2 separate regions of the Homo sapiens genome follow, and region 1 is linked to region 2. Evidence: fine-mapped expression QTL. Tissue or cell type: subcutaneous fat. Region 2 holds a variant in brackets; the other region holds the start of a gene. All regions are shown on one strand. Distances are from middle to middle.

Region 1 (5,000 bases), 58 kb before region 2:
GTTAAATAATGGTAAACAATCTAAGTAAGCATAATATTTTGTGAAATGTGAAATTGTAAACTTGTGAAATTGTATGATTCAAATTTCATTGTCTGGAACACAGCCGTGCTCATTGGTTTTCCATATGGACTTGGGCTGCTTTTTGTCCTACAACAGCGGGGTTCTGTGGCTGCAATAGACTATATGTCTAGAAAACTCTAAAGTATTTACAATCTGGCCTTTTACAGAAAAGCTCGTTGGCCCCTGTCTTGGGGGAGCATTGGTCAATCTACTAAAATGCTCTGAGTTGAGCCTGTCCTTGGCCAAGCACTGCCAGATCTCCCATCAGCTCTTCTCCCTTTAATCATATGCAAAGACCCCAAGCTGGCTAGGAGGGAGTTTCTCTCCATCCTCCCAGCCACAGGACACTCTTTTCATTCATCCCCTCGCCATTACAGTGTCTGCTGTTCTAAAGACCCAGAGACCAAGAGAGGTCTCTTGAGTGGACGTAGATGAGCACCAGTCCTAGCAGAAGAGAATTGGGGTGTGGCTCTTCCCACTTTTTAAGGCCTCTGTAAAATCACTTTTTCTGCTCAGCTACATGGGGCCAGAGGATGGGATTGAGCTGGTTTTTGGCTTCAAGATCGCTTGAGCCTCCTTGCATGTTTCACTAAACAGTCCTAAAAATGCAATGTCTGATTGGATGTCCCAAATAAAATTCATTTCAAACTTCCAGTTGTTCTGCTTCAGTCACCCCAGCCAGGACAGTTGCCCATCTCCACTTCCCCTCATACCATTTAGAAAATGAGTCAGATCTGTGAAGGAAGCATTTGCTAAGCACCCACTGTATAATGTGATGCTGGGCTGACACTCTCCAGGTGCAGAGGGGAAGATACAGCCTCTGCTGCAGTGGGACCCTGGCTGAGGGGGTCACACATCAAAACCCCACAAGAACACCCACTGGGCAAGAATCAAGAGGCATCAGCATTAGCACCATCACAGGGAACACAACCAATAACTGCATGGGACATAGGGACCCATGGAGAGAGCCGGGAGGCTCCTCAGATGAGAAAGGGCTGAGGTGAGGCATTGAAAGAGGACAGCAGACAAGGGGAGGCCAATCCTAACAAGAGGGCCAGCATCAGCTCAGGACTGGCAACAAAGCAGGAATGCGCAGAGCTTGTAAGAAGCCAGGAGAAGACTCTTGATAAGGAGCAGAAGAAAAGAATATAAGGTGGGGCTGAGCTGGGGTCCTTCAGTGCCAGACTGAACCGGCTGTCATAATAGGTGACATATTGTAATGTCCTGGAATTACAGAGAGGAGCCATGAAGTCGGGGATTTAGGAAAGGAGCCCCAGCGAGTAGGCAACCAATGTACATCAGAAATGATCAACATTCCCAATGTTGTCTACATTCACTTTTTTTTTTTTGAGATGGAGTTTCATTCTTGTTGCCCAGGCTGGAGTGCAGTGGTGTGATCTAGGCTCACTGCAACCTCTGCCTCCCAGGTTCAAGTGATTATCCTGCCTCAGCCTCCTGAGTAGCTGGGATTACAGGCATACACACCACCACGTCCAGCTAATTTTTGTATTTTTAGTAGAGATGGTTTCACCATGTTAGTCAGGCTGGTCTCGAACTCCTGACCTCAGATGATCTGCCAGCCTTGGCCTCCCAAAGTGCTGGGATTACAGGCGTGAGACACCGCACCCAGCCTACATTCAGTTTTAAGCACACACACAGGAAATTTATCTCCAGAAAACTTCGATCCACTTACCGGCCACCAGGCCATATCACGACCAGCGAGGAAGAAGCCTCCTATAGTACCTCGGTTGGTCTTCAGCATCGCCTGAGCAGAAGGGAAGACAGGTGAGGGTCAAGCCCCAGCAAGTGCACCCAGACACCCCAGAGGCTCTGGCCAGGGTGCTGAGAGGGGTGACTTCAGCACTCCTACAGAGAGAAACATTTCGCTGGAAAGTGTTCTATAGCATCAAATTTTAAAGGACTTCAAAAACAGTCGCTTTGTAAAAACCCAGGGCTGGAAGAACTTAAAAAAATCATAATCCTTAACTTCTATCTTAACTGCTCTGATTATTCTCACTTATGAAAACCATGTGAGGTATCATTGAGCCATGCTTGCAATAAAATTTGCAGTCTCGGCCGGGCACGGTGGCTCACGCCTGTAATTCCAGCACTTTGGAGGGCCGAGGCGGGTGGATCACAAGGTCAAGAGATCGAGACCATCCTGGCCAACATGGTGAAACCCCGTCTCTACTAAAAATACAAAAAGTTAGCCGGGCGTGGTGGCGCATGCCTGTAGTCCCAGCTACTTGGGAGGCTGAGGCAGGAGAATGGCGTGAACCCAGGAGGCGGAGCTTGCAGTGAGCCAAGCAAGCGCCACTGCACTCCAGCCTGGACGACAGAGCAAGACTCCGTCTCAAAAAAAAAAAAAATTTGCAGTCTCAAATTTATTAAAATAAAAAAATTCAACATAAATGAAGAGTCCAACTCACTAAATCAGAAAGTGAGCAAACAACAAAAGAAAGCGAAAGAAATGCGATAATAAAAATACACTCTTTGTCCATTATGCCAGGTGTTGGGGATGCATAGTAAATCTGAAGGTCCCGGTGCTGGCTGTGTGCACACGATGGGGTTATTAGGAGAATACATTAGTTCATTGTAAGCGTTATTTATGCAACACACAAGAAAATGATTCTGATAACACAATGACATTTGTGAAAAGCTTTGTCACAACCACACCCCTTCCCCCCTTAAGATACCCCCTCCTAAACCTTGTGCCCACCCTAAAAGCCACTGGGATTCCACCTACCCACAGCCCAACAGCCATCACCACCAGAAAATAGATGACAATGACTGAGATGTCAGCAGCATTTCGGATGTGGTCAGACAATGGAGGTGGCTCTGGGGTCTCAGCTATGGTGCTGGGGCTAACCGTACTGGCCATGGCTGCAGGCAGTGCTATACCCATTCCACGCATGAGCCATCTTTATATAAGTTCTGGGTTAATGATCAGCCTCAGGCAGGTGGGGCGAGATATCAGAGCCAGCTCCTGGATATGGAGACCTTTAAACCTCTTCTCCAAAGCTGTGGCACCCCAGCCCTCCACCAGTGAGTGCTAGCCTAGGTAGAGTGTGAGAATGAGGGATGCAGGGCCAGAAATGAGGGGAGAATTTGAGGTGGAGCATGGGGCGTTCTCTGAGTGCAAAGACAGGGTCTTTAAAGAGATTTGCCCAGGTGGAGGGGGGATTTGAGAGAAATGAAGACAGACAAGGAGGGGAGAAGGACAGACTAGAAGGTACCAGAAACCAGCCAGGAGGGACCGAATGCAATGGTCCTTCAGAGAACAGATACAGTTTCTGACCAATGAGCTATATCCCTTGACAGTGAAGTGAATTATGCCTTTCGTGGATTCCAAAGTCCCACATTTCTCTGAAGTGGGTTTCATGTGCCACAAAAAGACATTGGTGGCCTGTATAGGAAAGGAAGTGGCTCTTCAAGCACCATATGTGGTGAGTTGAGGGCAGAGCTGTGGAGAGCGCTGGGTCAGAGGGTTGTACAAAGAGTGAATCAACCTGGAAGCATGTGATGGGGATCATGAGGACTCAGGAAACAAGACTCCTGGACTACAGCCAAGAAGAAGTTAGAAGTAAAGCCTATGCGGTGGCTGACACCTGTAATCCCAGCACTTTGGGAGGCCAAGGAGAGAGCATCACTTGAGGCCAGGAGTTCAAGACCAGCTTGGGCAACATAGGGAGTCTTTGTCTCTATAAAAATTAGCTGAGTGTGGTGATGCACACGTATGGTCCCAGCTACTTGGGAGGCTGAAGAGGGAGGATCACCTGTGACTGGGAGGTCAAAGCTATAGTGAGCCATGATCACGCCGCTGCACTCTAGCCTGGGCAACTGAGCAAGATCCTGTCTCAAAAACAAACAAAAAAAACAACAACAAAAAAACAAAACCAAAAACACACATGAAAAAACGGAAAGCCCAGAAATTCTTCTTTTATACTTCATTTTTTATTGTGGCAAAGCATACATAGCATAAAATTTACCATTTTAATCCCTTTTAAGTGTACAATTCATTGGCATTAAGTACATTTACAGTGTTATGCAGCCATTACCACTATCCATTTCCAGAACTTTTTCATCATCTCCAAACAGAAGTATGTACCCACTAAAAACTAACTCCCCATCCCTCCCTCTCTCCAGGCCCTGGTAACCTCTGTTATTCTTTCTTACTATATAAATTTGCCTATTCTAGGTACCTCATACAAATGAAATCATACAATATTTTCCTCTTTGGTTTATTTCACTTAGTATGACATTTTCAAGGTTCATCCATATTGTAGCATGTATCAGAATTTCCTTCCTTTTTAAGGCTGAATAATATTCCAATACTCATATATACCACATTTTGTTTATCCATTCAACTGTTGATGGGCATTCAGGTTCTTTCTATACTTGGCTATTATAAATAATGCTGCTGAGAACACTGGTGTGCAAGGATCTGTTTGAATCCCTACTTTCAATTCTTTTGAGTCTATATGTAGAAGTGGAATTGCATGTGATAATTCTGTGTTTAACTTTTTGTAGAACTGCCAAACTGTTGTTCACAGCAGCTGCACTATTTTACATTCTTTCCACAGTGCATAGGAGAGTTAATTTCTCCATATCCTCTTCAATACTTGTCATTTATGTTTTAATTATAGACAGGCTAGTAGGTATCAAGTGGGTATCACAATATAGTTTTGATTTACACTTCTAACACAATCACTAGTAGTGTTGATTTTTTCATGTGCTTATAGCCATTTGTGCATCTTCTTGGAGAGAGATATATTCAACTTCTTCATCCATTTAAAAATTATGTTGTATTCTTTTTTACACTGCTCCTTGTGGAGCAGGACTACCTCATTGGCAGTGTACCCAGAATAGCCTTATGTTGTATTTTTGTTGCTGTTGAATTGTAGAATTTCCTTTTTATTTCTCAGAGACAGGGTCTCATT
Region 2 (5,000 bases):
TGCTCATGTCAGGGGAGAGGAAGCCATGCCTTTCTCTAATTGAGACCCCCCAGCACAGGTTCTCCCACTTTGCCTCTGCCAAGCCATATGCCTGGACACTGGCAACACTGCCTGGAGGAGACAGCTGGACCCAAAGACTGAGGCCAGGGGCCTGGGTCTTCCACAGCTGACCTGTGTGACCCTGGGCAAGCCACTTGACCCGGCTGAGTCTGTCTTCTCATCCATAAAATGGGGAGAGCCCCTTCTTCATGGGGCTGTTGAGAGGATGAAGAGCCAGGGAGAATGGAGGATGCTTTATGCCCTAGCAAGTTTGTTCTGCTTTTCCAAACGCAGGGCATTGTTTGCACAGTGTGACTCACAGTGGAGCCCAGGGCTGGGCACTCTTGCCCTCATCTCCTGCCTTCCCTCTGGGTCCCAGCCACCTGGCTTTCTTATGCTTCCTTGAAACCACCAAGCCTGTGCCTGCCACAGGGCCTTTGCACTAGCTGTTCCTTCTGCCTGGAATGCTCTTTTCCTATCTTTAACGCCCATTACTCGGTCCTGTGTGTCATTCAAATCTGGCCTTCAATCATCTGCTCAATAAGGCCTTCCCAGACCACCCCAGGTCCACGAGGGTCTCACTCACTTGTCCCTCGAACTGAGTTCCCGGCAGAACACTCGCCGCCCTTGCCACCTTCACTGTATTCCCGCCCCAGCTAGAAAGCCAGCACAGTGAGCAGGGACCTGCCTTGCTCACTGTTGTGTCTGGTGAATGGATGGGCAGTCAGTGTGAGAACACTAGGTCTGATGAAATGAGGAAACTGGGTCAGAGGACACACATGTTTATTAAGCAGGGCCTCCTGAGCTAAGAACTGGGGGAGATTTGGTATCACTAACACCCATGGAATGAGTGTGTCTACACTGGCAGCGTGGCCTTTGGAGATGTTTGTGATCATTTAGGTGATGCCATCCATCTCATAGGTGCCCCGGGGCAGGAGTGGAGGTGATTAGCTCTGTGGGTGGATGTTACGGGCATCTAGGCTTATGTGGAAGTCCCAATTCAAAGCGGGTGGATTTCTAGAACCCTCCTCTCTGGGTTTCCATAGCCTCGTTACCCTGCCCAGCAAAGATCCATGTGTCTGTGTCTCCCACCAGATGGGAGGCTCCCCAGGGGCAGAGATGAGGTCTGACTCATCTTCTGTCCCCATCACTGCCCAGCATGGGGCCTGGCGCACAGCAGGTGCTTAGCCAGAATGTGCTGAGTGGATCAGCGCTCTCGGCGGTGATGGTGGAGAACTCAGGGCGACAGCCTGTGGAGGCATCAAGGAGATGCTCCTGGCATTGTGCAGGGTGTGCCCTGGCTGGGGATCACGTCATGTCCAGGGAGTTGGAGCCTGGACTTTGGGTTCCTGCACCCCTGAGGTCAAACGAGGGGTTGGTCTCCTCCTGGCCATGTGGCGCCTGGGCACCCCCCTTCCCCACTGTGAGCTTTTTCTGCAGCTTTTTCTGCAGGGGGTTAATCATACCTGCCTCCCACGTGGTGAGAGGGAGAGTGCATGAAAACACTTAACTTGGTACCTGCCCTGTGGTCAGCCTGAGATGCGTCCCTGAGTATTTTTGTTACAGGAATGAATTCTGTAAGAACCAACCCTGACTGGCATTTTCAAATCCCCAGTGCTCCCTGAGACACAGAGGGGCTGTACCCTGTGCTTAGCAAGAAGCTTGCAGCCTGAACATTGACACGGATGAGAACCCCCAGCCAGAAGGTAACCCGCGCCCATCAGAGAACTTGAGGGGGGAAGCCCCAATAAAAACCAACCAACCAAACAAGAACACCCCAAATCACACGCGCGCGCGCACACACACACACACACACACGCACATTCAATATTCTGACACAAATAGCCCCAAGGGGCCGCTATTGGAGGGAGCAGGGGCAAGGGAAGCTTCGGTTTTCAACCACAGGTATAACTCACAGGCCTCAATCCTCCTGGCTGGAATCAGCCAGAGTTGCTTTGTCTTGGTCATCCTGAGGCCACAATGAGTCACCTCTCAGAAGCCACCAGCCCAAAACAGGACTATCGCTTGTGGACAGGTGGCTCAGAATCCCCTCCCCTGCACCCCCAGCCCCTACCCCTGAGTTTGCTCGTAATCTTAGAAGTCCGCAGAAGGGGGCTTTGGGCACAGGCAGCATTCCCTTCTCTACCACCTCGGCTGTCCCTGGCATCTCTGTAGAAGTTGTCCTTCTCGGAGGCTGCACTGGGTATTTCAGATCTCATCTCCCCCATCCTGAGGCACAGCAAAAGGGTTTTCTGGAGGAAATACAAGGAAAAAAAATATCACATGGTGTCTCCTCAATGGGGACTCACTGGGGACATTTCTCTCTGGCCTCAGTGCCAGAAGAATCCAGGTTTCCTCTGAACACATGGGTTTTGTCTTCTGAACGTTGTGAACCATGTGACTTTAAGACTGGAAGCGAGACAAAAATGTCGCTATCATTATAGCTCCATATAGTACTAGAGCTCTGGCTCATGCAATAAGGCAAGAAAAAAAAGCATAGACTAGGACTGGAATAGAAGAACCAAAATTACAGTTAA[T/C]TGTGGATAACTTACATAGAAAATTTAATAGAATCAACAGGTTAATTAGTAGAATGGAGAGTGCATACATAGAGGTATAATAGTCAACCTGTAAGACATCAGATCAATTTATAAAATGCAACAGTGTGCATTGACCTCAGCAGTTACTAGGGTAATTATATGTCATGGCTTGGGACAGTCTCAGTTGACACTTGTTGTTCTGACATAATTTTTAATGTTGTTCCCCTTTTACCCTCAAAAGTATTCTGATTTGGATGATAAATTATACTGTCACCCTTGCTATAACAAACTAAATATTAAACACAGATACAGATACCATTCATACTGACAAAAACGATCCTGTATTTTGGAATGACACTAAGATATGACCATGACCATGTCATACAAAGCTATAGAGAAGATACCAAGATGCTCCTGGAATAGGGAAGAGCCAGGAGAGCAGTGGAACAAGATCTACAGTGTGGAAACAGGTCTGCTGGGCACTTATAGCTTTGAATGGCAGAGTCAAGTTGCAAACAAGACAATGAGGAAAAGAAATACAAACTCCATCTGTGGCAGGCAGCATGAACCCCACTGCCCTGTGTCTATTACAAGAGCAATTGCCCAGCCACAACTACTTACCTTCCCAGACTCCCTTGCAAGCAGGGGTGGTCACATGACCCAGTCTGGCCAATGTCATGTAAGTGGGAGTCTATTGGGAAGGGGACATAAATCCAGGGGAAGATGAACTATCTTGCATGCATGAGAATGAAGGATGCTCACTAACACAGGTGGAGTAGAAGGCAGGGAGAAACTGGGTTCTGGTGGCAGCCCTGGACTGCCCCCTCCACACCACTGCAGTCAAATTTCCTTTACTTGCATAAATTGCAACTGGTGACAGTTCTTAACTGATAAACCATCTTCAACCAAACTACATGTTTTTTGGGCAAATGGAGAAGTCAAGGGAGTGGCTCCGACAAAGCCAGCAAAGCCCACCTCCCCAGAGTGAGAGATACGCCAAGAAGGAGAACCTACTCTCCACTCTTTGCATCAGTGGGAATGTGTACAGGGGCTAAGGGTGAGAGATTCCGTGGGGCCATCTCCTCAGCTTCACAGAACAAAGCCAGGTACTCTCCATCACCGACTTTTTTTTCTCCATAGCACACACCTCTATCCAGCATACCACCTATTGTACTTACTTGAATAATTTATTGTTTGTCTTCCCCACATAGAAAGTTAGCTACAAGAGGGTTAAGGTGATTGTGTGTTTTACACATTGCTGCATTGCCAGGGCCTAGGACAGTAACTGGCATACTGTAGGGGCTTAATAATGTTTATCAAATAAATGAATGAACCAAGAATTTAAAGCCCAATGAACCATCTTTCAAATATAAAGTCAACAGAAAAACATGTTGAACATATTTTTGAATTATAGTTCCCATGACCCCTTCTTAAAAAAATTAAGGACACCCTTAGGCAAATCAAGAATGATTCAGAAAAGTTTAATGTAAAAGGATGGGCAGATGATTTTTTTAAAAGTTCTGTGGATAGATGGCAGTGATGGCTGCTGTATTAATCCATTTTCATGCTGCTGATAAAGACATACCCAAGCAATTTACAAAAGAAAGAGGCTTAACTGGACTTACAGTTCCACATGGCTGGGGAGGCCTCACAATCATGGTGAAAGGCAAGGAGGAGCAAGTCACGTCTTATGTGGATGGTGGCAGGCAAAGGGACAGAGAGAGTGAGCGAGCTTGTGCAGGAAAATTCCCATCAGACCTCATGAAATTTATTCACTATCATGAAAACAGCATGGGAAAGACTTGCCCCCATGATTCAATTACCTCCCACTGGGTTCCTCCCATGACACATGGGAATTGTGGGAGTTACAATTCAAGATGAGCTTTGGGTACAGCCACAGCCAAACCATATCAGTTGCCCTACAGTGAGAAGGTACTTAATGCCCCTGAACTGTATACTTAAAAATGGTTAAAATGGTTATATGTTATGTGCATTCTACCACAATTCATAAAAAGGATGAGCAGAAGCATAACAAATGCAAATGAAGAGAAATCAGGGGTCAAGTTGTAAATGGAGCACTGCCAAGAGTGCCAGCAATGAGCACAGAATTTGTGTAACTGCAGGACTATTAAAGCCAATCTAAAGATTATGACCATCACAGAGAAGAATGAAACAAAACAGAACTGGCATAAATAATAAAAAGTAGGAGGGGTGGAGGTGAGAAGGAGAGAGGTAATACAAGTAAACTATGTCATATTCATATATAGTTGGAGGTCTAAATTATTGCTTAGAAGTCTAAGTAAAATTAGAGGCATCAAGGTAAACAAAAAATAATCAACTAAAATAACTTGATGGAAGGGAGACAAGAAGAGGGAAAGTAGAAATATTCTAATTTTGATATTGTTCACAGTAGGGAGAAAATAA

What was found. PIP is the estimated chance that this variant, and not a neighbour inherited with it, causes the effect.
Region 1: it holds the start of SLC5A4, and the variant in region 2 is fine-mapped to the expression of SLC5A4 in subcutaneous fat (GTEx, PIP 0.94).

The regions. Positions count from the first base shown.
Region 1 is chr22:32,252,389-32,257,388 of GRCh38, forward strand. SLC5A4 (solute carrier family 5 member 4) reads right to left here and starts at 2,959. Exons shown (of 15, transcript NM_014227.3): 1 at 2,807-2,959; 2 at 1,754-1,825. The coding sequence starts at 2,941. The region is part of intron 2 of SLC5A4-AS1 (SLC5A4 antisense RNA 1); the gene reads left to right.
Region 2 is chr22:32,310,530-32,315,529 of GRCh38, forward strand. It overlaps a transcript of SLC5A4 not described here. Among named protein-coding and RNA genes, the nearest start is that of RFPL3, 45 kb to the right of the region's middle. The variant T/C (reference allele first, on the strand shown) is at 2,577.